2 separate regions of the Homo sapiens genome follow, and region 2 is linked to region 1. The links come from fine-mapping of genetic effects on gene expression. A gene starts in region 1. The other region holds a variant in brackets. All regions are shown on one strand. Distances are from middle to middle. Region 1 holds the start of ZNF593 (zinc finger protein 593). Region 2 overlaps CRYBG2 (crystallin beta-gamma domain containing 2).

What was found. PIP is the estimated chance that this variant, and not a neighbour inherited with it, causes the effect.
Region 2: its variant is the best candidate, but not a certain one, in a credible set for the expression of ZNF593 in whole blood (INTERVAL, PIP 0.77).

Annotation. Positions count from the first base shown.
Region 1 is chr1:26,167,684-26,173,049 of GRCh38, forward strand. It overlaps ZNF593 (zinc finger protein 593), which reads left to right and starts at 2,225. Exons shown (of 3, transcript NM_015871.5): 1 at 2,225-2,500; 2 at 2,735-2,797; 3 at 2,892-3,190. The coding sequence starts at 2,301. The coding sequence ends at 3,033. C1orf232 (chromosome 1 open reading frame 230) reads right to left here and starts at 1,280. Exons shown (of 4, transcript NM_001364669.2): 1 at 733-1,280. The coding sequence starts at 816. It overlaps ZNF593OS (ZNF593 opposite strand), which reads right to left and starts at 4,149. Exons shown (of 4, transcript NM_001395468.1): 1 at 4,087-4,149; 2 at 3,934-4,006; 3 at 3,473-3,652; 4 at 1,838-2,915. The coding sequence starts at 3,978. The coding sequence ends at 3,506. RefSeq lists a silencer at 606-761 and an enhancer at 1,995-2,094.
Region 2 is chr1:26,333,824-26,339,189 of GRCh38, forward strand. It overlaps CRYBG2 (crystallin beta-gamma domain containing 2), which reads right to left. Exons shown (of 20, transcript NM_001039775.4): 7 at 4,528-4,654; 8 at 4,189-4,224; 9 at 3,715-3,851; 10 at 3,430-3,556; 11 at 3,018-3,157; 12 at 2,783-2,909; 13 at 2,515-2,547; 14 at 2,272-2,384. Among named protein-coding and RNA genes, the nearest start is that of CRYBG2, 18 kb to the right of the region's middle. RefSeq lists a silencer at 2,565-2,944 and an enhancer at 3,085-3,144. The variant C/T (reference allele first, on the strand shown) is at 3,048.

The DNA of each region.
Region 1 (5,366 bases):
CAATCTCAGCTCATTGCAACCTCTGCCTCCCAGGCTCAAGCAATTCTCCTACCTCAGCCTCCCAAGTGGCTGGGATTACAGGTGCACGCCGCCATGCCTGGCTACTTTTTTTTGTATTTTAATAGAGACTGGGTTTCACCGTGTTGCCCAGGCTGGTCTTGAACTCCTGAGCTCAGGCAATCCACCCACCTCGGCCTCCCAAAGTGCTAGGATTACAGGCATGAGCCACCGTGCCCGGCCCAGCCTGTTTTTTGTTGTTGTTGTTTGTTTGCTTGTTTTTTGTAATGTCAGAACAAAGCATGGTCTAAGTATGGCTTTGATCTGATGCTGCTGCAGTGACCTTTCTAGTACAGGCGCCACTCCCCCTACCTCTAGTAACATGGGGCTCACTACATCACTCCTACTTCTGCTCCCATTAGAAAGTTGTGTCCAGCTAAGTGTGCCCGTGTGCCTACTGCCCACTGGTCCTAGAAGAATCTCTTCCATGTGGCAGCCTCGAGATCTTTGGAGACAGTGGCCACTCCTCCCATGGTCCCTAAGTCTTTTCTTCCTCAGTTTTCTTGAATGTCCTGGCTTTCTGATGCTGCACCATGGTTTTTACCATCCCTGAATGTGGCATCTGCACAAATGTGGCCCCCCCACCTCCAAGCCTATCCTGTGCCCCACTTCATACTGCTCATTCCTGCTGCCCCTCTGCACATGCTCCACCCACCATGCATGGATGGCACCCACCTCCTCTGCCAGGTCTTCTTCAGATTCCCCACTCAGGGTCTGTAGCACTTTGGACTTGTAGGTTTTCCAGAAGGCCTGGTTCATGGCTGCAGGGGGAAGGGGCCTGGCACGCAAGCACAGGAAGGTGGTGGCTCAGTGGATACCAGTGAGTCTGGCTCTAGGAACTTGGTGAGGCCAAGAGCCTGTCCGAGGGATCCAGTGACTTCATTAAAGATGCACCAGCCTCCCCAGCTGGCACAGTGCCCAGGAGGTGAACCTGATCCAAAGGAGTCGGGGAGTGGGGGATGGAACAAGCTTCTGCCACCTTAGCCCCTTGTCTTGACCCATATTGGCCAAGAATAATGAAGTCATTTGTCTCTAGAGAGGCTTTCTTCCTGGGCCTAGGAGTACTTGAGTTGTTCATCTCTTAGCATGCCTCCAGGAAAATCTTCTTCCATTCACAAAATCCTGAGGTCTGGGACCCACACTGGAGCCCCTGTGACTGTAGTCATACTAGTTGTGTCCTCAGCAGGGCTCCACCCTGTGTCCCTACTTAGCCTCAATGAACTGGAGCAGGAAGGTCCGCAGGCCCCCAGTGGGCACCTTGGGCTTACATTTCACTCCTTTGTCTGGGCTGGAAACTGATTCCTCTCCCCAGGGATACACGTGCCTGTCTCCTTGTTTCCTGGCAACAGACTCCAAAGAGCTGGAGCCCCTGAATTATTGCTAAGCTCCTCTGGCCCCTTCCAGCTGAGTTGGCTCTGGCCAGCCTGGGAGGCACCAGGCTCCTGTGAATGGGGAAAGGCCCTCTAGCCACTCTGAGCATGCAACACCTAGGCCTTTGCTGCCAGCCCACCTCTGGGAGCCCAGGGCTTAGAGAAAGGAGGCAAAGATGGAGAGGTCCTTCTATGAGTACTTGTGAGAGGAACTGATCCCTCTGGAGTCTGGATGCCTGAGGACTGCACTCTCTGGGGAGGAACACCCTTCACGGATTTGGTTGGGGTCAGAGAGAGGATGGAGACTCAAGGGAATAACGGGAGCCCGGAGAAGTGAGGGCTTTTTCAGGGACTGGAGATTATCTCGGGAAGCCCTGGTGGGGCTGGGATTCCAAACTTATTCACTCTCAGTCATTTACTAATTTATTCATGACACAGACATTTATCAGTGCTTTCCAGAGATAAAGCATCCCACCCCCACCGCGGAGTCCAAGGTCTGGGAAACAGGAAGGGATGACAGGAGTACAGGTTGGCACTGATACTGGTTGGACCAGGCCAGGAAGAGCAGGGCAGCAAGACGGCCCCGAAACCCCCAGGCGCACGCACCACCCCGCGCCTCCCCAGCGAGGGCCCGCGGGGCCATGCCCTTCAGTGGGCACACTTCTGGGAGCCCGTCCTGAGCTCGGTCACTGACGTCGACGGCCGCCTGGCGGCGCTCGAGCCGCTGGCCGAGAGTGACGTCATCAGAGGCGGTCCGGCCGAGCCTGCCTAGCCCCCCGGCGTGGCCTGACGTAGCTGATCGGCCCGGAAGTGCTCACACGTGTGCTCCCTGCCCTGCTCCTGGCCCCTTGGCCGGCCGGGCTGTTTCTGGCCATGGGTCGCTCCCGCCGGACAGGCGCGCACCGAGCGCACTCTCTAGCCCGGCAGATGAAGGCGAAGCGGCGGCGGCCGGACTTGGATGAGATTCACCGCGAGCTGCGGCCTCAGGGATCCGCACGACCCCAGCCCGACCCAAACGCCGAGTTCGACCCCGACCTGCCAGGGGGCGGTCTGCACCGCTGTCTGGCCTGCGCGTGAGTCCCGGACGAGCCCGGCCTGGGGCGGAGGAGGGTCCGCGGTACCGGCCGGGAGATGTGAAGTTGAAGCCCCAGGCAGCGCAGAGTCTTCTCTCTTGGGACCCGTGGGTCCGCCCGCCTCCCGTTTCTCAGACCCGGATCCTGGCGTCAGGGACAAGCTAGGGCTAGGGAGATAGGTGCACTTGGGAGACTATCACCTCCTCACTCTCCTTCTCACTTCCATTCCTACAGGAGGTACTTCATCGATTCCACCAACCTGAAGACCCACTTCCGATCCAAAGACCACAAGAAAAGGTATGAAGGAGTAAGGAGAGGATTGATGGATGGGTGCTCAGCAGATAGGGCTCTCACCTGGTCAGCTCCCAACTCCTGTTTTTCTTTCTCCCAGGCTGAAGCAGCTGAGCGTCGAGCCCTACAGTCAGGAAGAGGCGGAGAGGGCAGCGGGTATGGGATCCTATGTGCCCCCCAGGCGGCTGGCAGTGCCCACGGAAGTGTCCACTGAGGTCCCTGAGATGGATACCTCTACCTGACATGGCCTGAAGATGCAGGGCAGAGGAATTGCCCATGGACAGTGACGCAAGGACTAGGCTGGGAGGGAGCGTGCCAACCCCTTTTGCCTCTGGGTTTGGGGAGCGGAGGGCCTCTTCTTGGTGCCCTGCCCCAAATAAAGGAACTGGACAAAGAGAACTTGCCTCCAACTCTAACTTCCAGGCCGCTGTCTCAAACTCCTGCCCTGGAAGGGCTTCTCTACTACTTTCTGTACACCAGGCCTAGGGTGTCTACTCCCCACTTGGTCTATCTCTGCCTTCCCTCTGAGGTCCTAGCATCTGAACTGGAGCACCCAGATGGAGGCCTGATGCAGTGTGGGGTGGCGGGAGTGGGATCAGATTACTCTGTCCTGCTTCTGACAGAGACTGATCCCCAGAAAAGAAGGCTTCTGAGATTGCACCCCCCTCCCGAGTCACCTACCCCCAGCATCCAAGTGAGAGTCTCTCTTCTTCGTTACGGGGCCCGTGGCACCCGCCGCTGCCCCACCATCTTCCAGACGGCATAGCAGGAGCCACCCAGGCCGAGGACAGCTAGCACTGTAGCCACAACTCCTGCCAGCAGACTCCGGGGCTCTGCCTTCAGCTCACCAGCTACCTGCATCTGGAGGTGCACAGAGGGTGTGCCTCAGGGGTCAGTTGAGACTGCCAGGAAGGTGGGGAGTGGGAAAGGGCTGAGTAGATGTAGCTAGGGGAAGGAGACATGGACGCCGGTCCTGCCCCAGGGAGATTCCACCCCAATCCCTTTCGCCTCACTGCCCATCTGGGCCTGCCTGCTCAGGCGGCAGGGAACGTGACAGCCTGGCTGTTGGGGGTGTCAACCCAGCTATGGTAGGGGGAGGAAGGGGTCAGTCGTGCCAGAAACCGTTGATCAGGGGTACTTACCTGTAACACCCGGAAGTAACCAGGGGTCAAGCGTCGAAATCGCATGGTGGGCGGCACTGGTCTCCCTGGCGGCCTGTAGGGTGGGAGCGGACGTGAAGACCAGTGGTCTTCATGACACCAAGAAGTGGAAACTAGGGTAGAGGGGTCTCTGACCTTCCACATACGCAAGACCCAAGCTCTCAGAGGATGCTCACCCGCGCCTGCCTGCCCAGGTCTGGCAGGGGGCGGAGCAACTGGACCTTTAAATCTGGTCCCTTCCCCCACTGCCTACCATCCTGCCAGCCTTAGAAGCAGCTGTCAAAAGAGATCAGCATCAGGCTTGAGCGGCACCTCCCCCACTCTCCGAGGAGGCGGGTCCGGTTAGGCAGGAGAGGCCTTGGCTGGCAGTGCTCAGGAGTCCCAGGCCTGGACCAGGTACTGGGCGGGCCTCCCTCAGCCCTGGTCCAGGCCCCATCGCTACCTTAGATGATTGGATGCCACCAATCAGCATTATCGAAGGAAGGATGTGTTATTAGCTCCCACAACAGTATGCCTTTTCCATTTGATTTCTGTGAAATCAACCGCCCCTACCTCAAGGGAGGGCACATATAACCCTTTTTTTTTTTTTTTTTAAGACAGAAGTCTCACTCTGTCACCCAGGCTTGAGTGCAGTGGCATGATCTCGTCTCACTGCCACCCAGGTTCAAGCGATTCTCCAGCCTCAGCCTCCTGAGTAGCTGAAATTACAGGCACCTGCCACCGCGCCCAGCTAATTTTTGTATTTGTAGTAGAGACGGGGTTTCACCATATTGGTCAGGCTGGTCTTGAACTCCTGACCTCATGATCCCCCCGCCTTGGCGTCCCAAAGTGTTGGGATTACAGGTGTGAGCCACTGCGCCCGGCCAATTTAACCCATTTTTTCAAGACAAAGTTTCTTCAGGGACTTCCCTGCCCTCAGCTTGAAACAATAATAAAAGCATATCTGCATATACCAATTAAGGAAGCTGCCCGTGATACGTTAAAAATAGTAGTCATTGTTCTAAGCACTTAACTTGTATTATTTCATTTGCTATCGATTATCTCTTAAATGAAAAAGTATGGCTGGGCAGCACTTTGGGAGGCTGAGGCAGGCAGATGGCTTGAGCCCAGGAGTTCAAGACCAGCCTGGGCAACGTGGTGAAACCTCATCTCTACCAAAAAAAAAAAAAAAAATTTAGCCAGGCATGGTGGTGCATGCCTGTAGTCCCAGCTACTCAGGAGGCTGAGGTGGGAGGATCACTTGAGCCCAGGAGGTGGAGGCTGCAATGAGCTGAGGTTGCACCATTGCACTCCAGCATGGGTGACAGAGCCAGACCCTGTCTCCAATAAAAATAAAAAAGAAAAAGTACAATTTGCAGAATAGTATGTAGACTATCTGCAGATATAGAAAATAGAAGAATATCCCAAATTTAGTA
Region 2 (5,366 bases), 170 kb after region 1:
AATTATTATTTTAGAGATAAAATCTCACTCTGTTGCCCAGGCTGGAGTGCAGTAGTGTGATCATAGTTTACTGCAGCCTCCAACTCCTGGGCTCAAACAATCCTCCCATCTCAGCCTCCTGAGTAGGTAGTACTATAGGTGCATGACACCACATCCACCTAATTAAAAATTTTTTTGTCAAGACAGGGTCTCCTTATGTTGCCCAGGTGATTCTTGAACTCCTGGACTCCTGCCTCAGCCTCCCAAAGTGCTGGGATTACAGGCATGAGCCACTGTGCCCAGCTTCATGGTAATTATTCATAGGAAAACAGAACTAGGGCCAGGTGCAGTGGCTCACACCTGTAATCCCAACACTTTGGGAGACCAAGAAGGGAGGATTGCTTGAGCCCAGAAGTTTGAAACCAGCCTAAGTAACAAAGTGAGACCCCCATCTCTACAAAAAAGTTAAAAAATTAGCCGGGCGCGGTGGCGTGCACCTATGGTCCCAGGTCTCAGGAGGCTGAAGTAGGAGAATCCCTTGAGCCCAGGAGGTCAAGGCTGCACTGAGCTGTGTTCACACCACTGCACTCCAGCCTGAATAAGAAAGTGAGACCCTGTCTCAAACAAAAACAAAAACAAATCCAGAAATAGATAAAAATGAAAAATATTCCTTAAAACTGAAAATAAATTAAATTAATGAACCTAATTGTATATTAGGTTGGTGACATAACCACACACACAAAAGTATTATTTCAAATGTGTTTAAGACACGGTAATTTGAACGAATATATAACAAATAGGTTATAGGTGAATATCTTGAGGACAAAAAGAACCACAAGAAGCCAGGCACGGTGGCTCATGCCTGTAATCCCAGCACTTTGGGAGGCCGAGGGGGGCGGATCATGAGGTCAAGAGTTTGAGACCAGCCTGACCAACATCATGAAACCCCATCTCTACTAAAAATACAAAAATTAGCTGGGCGTGGTGGCGGGTGCCTGTAATCCCAGCTACTCAGGCGGCTGAAGCAGGAGAATTGCTTGAACCGGGAGGCAGAGGCTGCAGTGAGCTGAGACAGTGCCACTGCACTCCAGTCTGGGCGACAGAGCGAGACTCCATCTCAAAAAAACAAACAAACAAAACAAACAAACAAACAAACAAAAAACAGGAAACTCCCAACAGCATTCAGTGGTTTTTACTATTAGTTGTAATAAGGGCATTATAACTTTGAAACACCTAGCATGCAGATTTTGGTCTCTACCATTTGCCACTAAAAAGAACCAGGGTTCCTTGGCAAATAGCCAATTCTAGATTTGGAGCAAAAAAAAAAAAAAATGTACAAAATGATCCTGGAGCATCTTATTATATCAAGAAAGTTATCAAAACTACTGGGGTCGCCGGGCGCAGTGGCTCACGCCTGTAATCCCAGCACTTTGGGAGGCCGAGGTGGGCGGATCACCTGATGTTGGGAATTCAACACCAGCCTAATCCACATGGAGAAACCCCATCTCTACTAAAAATACAAAATTAGCCGGGCTTGGTGGCCCATGCCTATAATCCCAGCTACTTGGGAAGGCTGAGGCAGGAGAATCGCTTGAACCTGGGAGGCGGAGGTTGCGGTGAGCTGAGATCGCGCCACTGCACTCCAGCCTGGGCAACAGAGCAAAACTCTGTCTCAAAACAAAACAAAACAATACAAAAAAAACTACTGGGGTCGGCCAGGCACGGTGGCTCATGCCTGTAATCCCAGCACTTTGGAAGGCCGAGGTGGCGGATAGCTTGAGCCCAGGAGTTTGAGATCAGCCTGGCCAACATGAGGAAACCTGGCCCAAGGACCTTATTTGGATGCTGAGAAAAACAAGTTAATTTCACAAAGGCATTTTTGAGACAATGGGAGAAATCTGAACACGGACTGGGTATTGGGTAATATGAATAAATTGTTATTAATTTTATTAGATGTGATAATGACTTGTAGCTACGTGGGGAAAATGTTCTTTCATATTAGAGACACACGTTGAAGTGTGTACCCATGAAATTTTACGTTGGGTCAGGGATTTAAAATACTCCACCGAAAATTTAAAAGAGCACACGGATAGAGGAAACAAGATTTATCTTTATATTATACAATCTACAGTTTTACATTTTCCATTAAAACCTTATTTTGTTTTAAAATTGCGCAAGACAGAACAGTTCATCGCAAGGTAGCCAAAGGAAGGAAATCATTTGAAAGACTCTCCTCCTGCAGCCCCGCCTCTGCCCCAGCGCCCCCAGCCCTCCGCCCCTCCACGTTCTCACCTGCCGCCGTGGACCCGGCAGGACTGAGGTCGGAAGGAGGCGGGCAGAGCGGCCTGGTCATCTTCGAAAGAGAAGTGGTCGCCCAGAAAGTCGGGGCGGGAGAAAAGCTGAATCTGGAGGCAGAGAGGGGAGATGAGGGGAAGGAGGACGATGGAGTGGGGCCGAGAACAGCGGGGAGGGGAAAGGTCCGAAATGAGGGGAGAGACGTGAGCCCAGCGGCTCCCTGCGGAGTCCCTGCCTTACCTTTGAGACGAAGTGCAGATCGTGCTCCCCGACCTGAAGGTAGGGACCGAATCGAGAATTAGGGAGGGTGCCGGCCCCTAGCCTTGTCTTCTCTAGGTTTCAGTACCGTCCACCCCGCGGCCGCGCCCTCGGCCCCGCCCCCTTCTAAGGCCCCGCCCCAAGCGCCCAGGCAGGTCCTCCAGCCCGCTACCTCTGCGTGGGGGCGGGGCGCACCCGAACTCCAGGTCCCGCCACCGGGGAGGCCCCGCCCCCCGCGGCCGGCACGCACCTGTAGGACCGGCTGCAGCGAGGCGAGGGTGCTGTTGCCAGCGCCCCAGTCCTCGCAGTTACGATACACGCCCTTCTCCAGCACGTACTGTTCCCCGGAGAAGCCCACCTCCTGGTAGGCCACCCACCTGCAGGAAGGGCGGGGCGCGAGTCAGCTGGGACGGAGCCTGCACCTCTCCTGGAACCGCCCCCGGCTCGCCCGGGCCCGCCCCGCTCCCGGAGCCCGGGTCACTTACACGCCGCTGAGCACGTGGATGGCCTGTGTG[C/T]TGGGGCCGTGTTGCACCAGCTCCACATCCGGCAATGCCTTGCTCACCTCCACGCCGTGCCCCTCGAAGTCCATGGCCTCAAATAGCACGACGGCCGGGTCCCCGAAGTCCTGGGTCCCCAGGGACAGTCAGGTCTCTCCCGCCCACAAACCGAAACCCCTGGGAGTGCCCAGACCCCAGGGTCACAGCCCACCCGGGGAATTAGGGGTGAGGCTGTCAGTACGACCTGGAGAAGAGCAGCAGGGGAAGAGAGGCTAGACCTCTGGGAACACTTACAGGGAGAACACGGAGAGGGGGTACAAATTCTTCCCTCCACAAACTGTACTGGGGGAGGTCTGGCTGTGGCCAGAGGCAGAGGGATGGGCCAATTGCCTTTGCTTACCGTCCGGATGACCCGGAGGGAGGTCAGCAACTCGTCATAGCCTCCCCAGTGTGACCAGTCTGGGTATTCCCCCTCCTCCAGCAGATACTGGTGGCCCCGGAAGCCCTCCTTCTCGTAGCCCACCCAGCTGGGAAAAGCAGGAGGACAGACAGGCAGGTTCAGTCATAGGAGGCCCATGGATGAATGAGACAGCTGTCCCCACCCCTACGCAGCCCAGGTCACTCCCCACTCCCAAGGGTAAAGGCCAGAGGTGATGAAATAGAAGGAAGGGTCCTGAGTTCTCACCAGCCTCCGAGAACTCTCAGGGACCCCACAGAGGCCAGGTGGGGGCTCTGGCTGTCCTCTGGCTGCTGAAGGTTGTAGATGTCTCGGCTCACTTCCCAGCTGCGGCCCTGAAAGCCTGGGGCCTCATACACCACAGCCTGGGGGAAAGGGGCTGTCAGGAGTCATCTGGACCCAAACACACCCAGCCAGCTCAGGAATGGCTCTGCCCAGCATCAGGCCAATGTGGCACCCCCCAGCCCTCCCACCTCCTTGCTGAACTCCATCCCCTTACCCAATTCCTATCTCTACTCTGACCTCTGACCTTCTTACACATCAAAAGCCAGTTCCCAGTGAGCCCATCAGGTCCCATCCCCCCAGACCGTGCTTCTGGCCCCCAGTGCCCTCCTCTCTGGATTTCCTGTCCAGACCACGATAACCAAACACCTGCACCCCGCCACCAAAGGCCCTCTTTGGCTCTTAAGCCCAGACTCTTACCCTGGGCTCCCCTGGCTTCTCCACACTTGGGCAGCCCTGCAGAGGAGACAGAGCTGAGACACCAGCCCAGAGATGGGAAAGACAGATGGGGCTGCGGATCTAGGATTTTCCTGATCCTGAGAACCCCAACCCCATGTCTTCCCTTTTCCCCTACCTCTTAGGTTAATCCCTACCTCTCCTCCCACTCCCATTCCCAATAGAAGCTCCCAGGAAGCAGTCTCCAAGGGGTGCTGTTTTACACTTCATCCCCCATCCCTTCCCACAGACTGCAGGACCAGCTACTTGGGACCAGGGGCAGAGCCTAGACCTCCTGGCCTGTGGGTGTGCCCTGTTCTTTACCAATCTCATGGGCTTCAGGGAGCCCACGCTGGGGTCCGATGTGCCCCAGGCCTCTGAGGTGGGGTACTCTCCAGGTTCCAGGATGTAGGGAGTGTCTTCGAATAATGGTTTGGGGTACAGTAGCCACCTAGGGGAAACAGAGAGGCTGCTGCACCCTAGCAGAGAGACTTCAAGGGACACAGATTGGTGGGCGGGAGGGAAGGTTTAGAGTGGAAAAGGAGGTTTTCTGGGGAGGTTCCCATCAGTCTCGTATAATCTCTTGCAGTAGCCACATTGGTCTCCCTTCCTCTGGCTTTGCCTTCTCTAATTTCACACAGCAGCTGGAGCATTTTTCTCTAGCATGCATGGAAAACTGCTTCAATAACCCCAGTAGTTCCCTGTTAGCCTCACAATAAAGCCCGGCTATGCAAAGAGGCTCTGCAATCTGGCCTCTTCCTTCTCCCTGGGCCTCAGTTCTTCCCACTTGTTGCTTATGCTGGCTACACTGAAAATTTGAAGCTTAGCTGTCTCCTCTCTGGGCCTTTGCATGTGCTATTCCCTCTGCCAGATATACTCTTTTCCCCATTTATTCAATTGACAAATATTTAGAAGCATCTGCTCTGTGCCAGACCCTGCTACAGGCATCAGGGATACAGTGGTGAACAAGCATACACAATCTCTGCCCTCATGGAGCTTAGATTCTTGGCCAACTCATCCCAGCATGGTGTCTCCTCCTCCAGGAGGGTTTCTCTGACTTCCACACTCTGCCTCTCATGGTATGGTGTTTTTCTGTGCTCCCTCACCCCAAAACACTGAATTGCTATTGTCTGCTTACTTGCCTGTCCCCACCAGTGGACTGA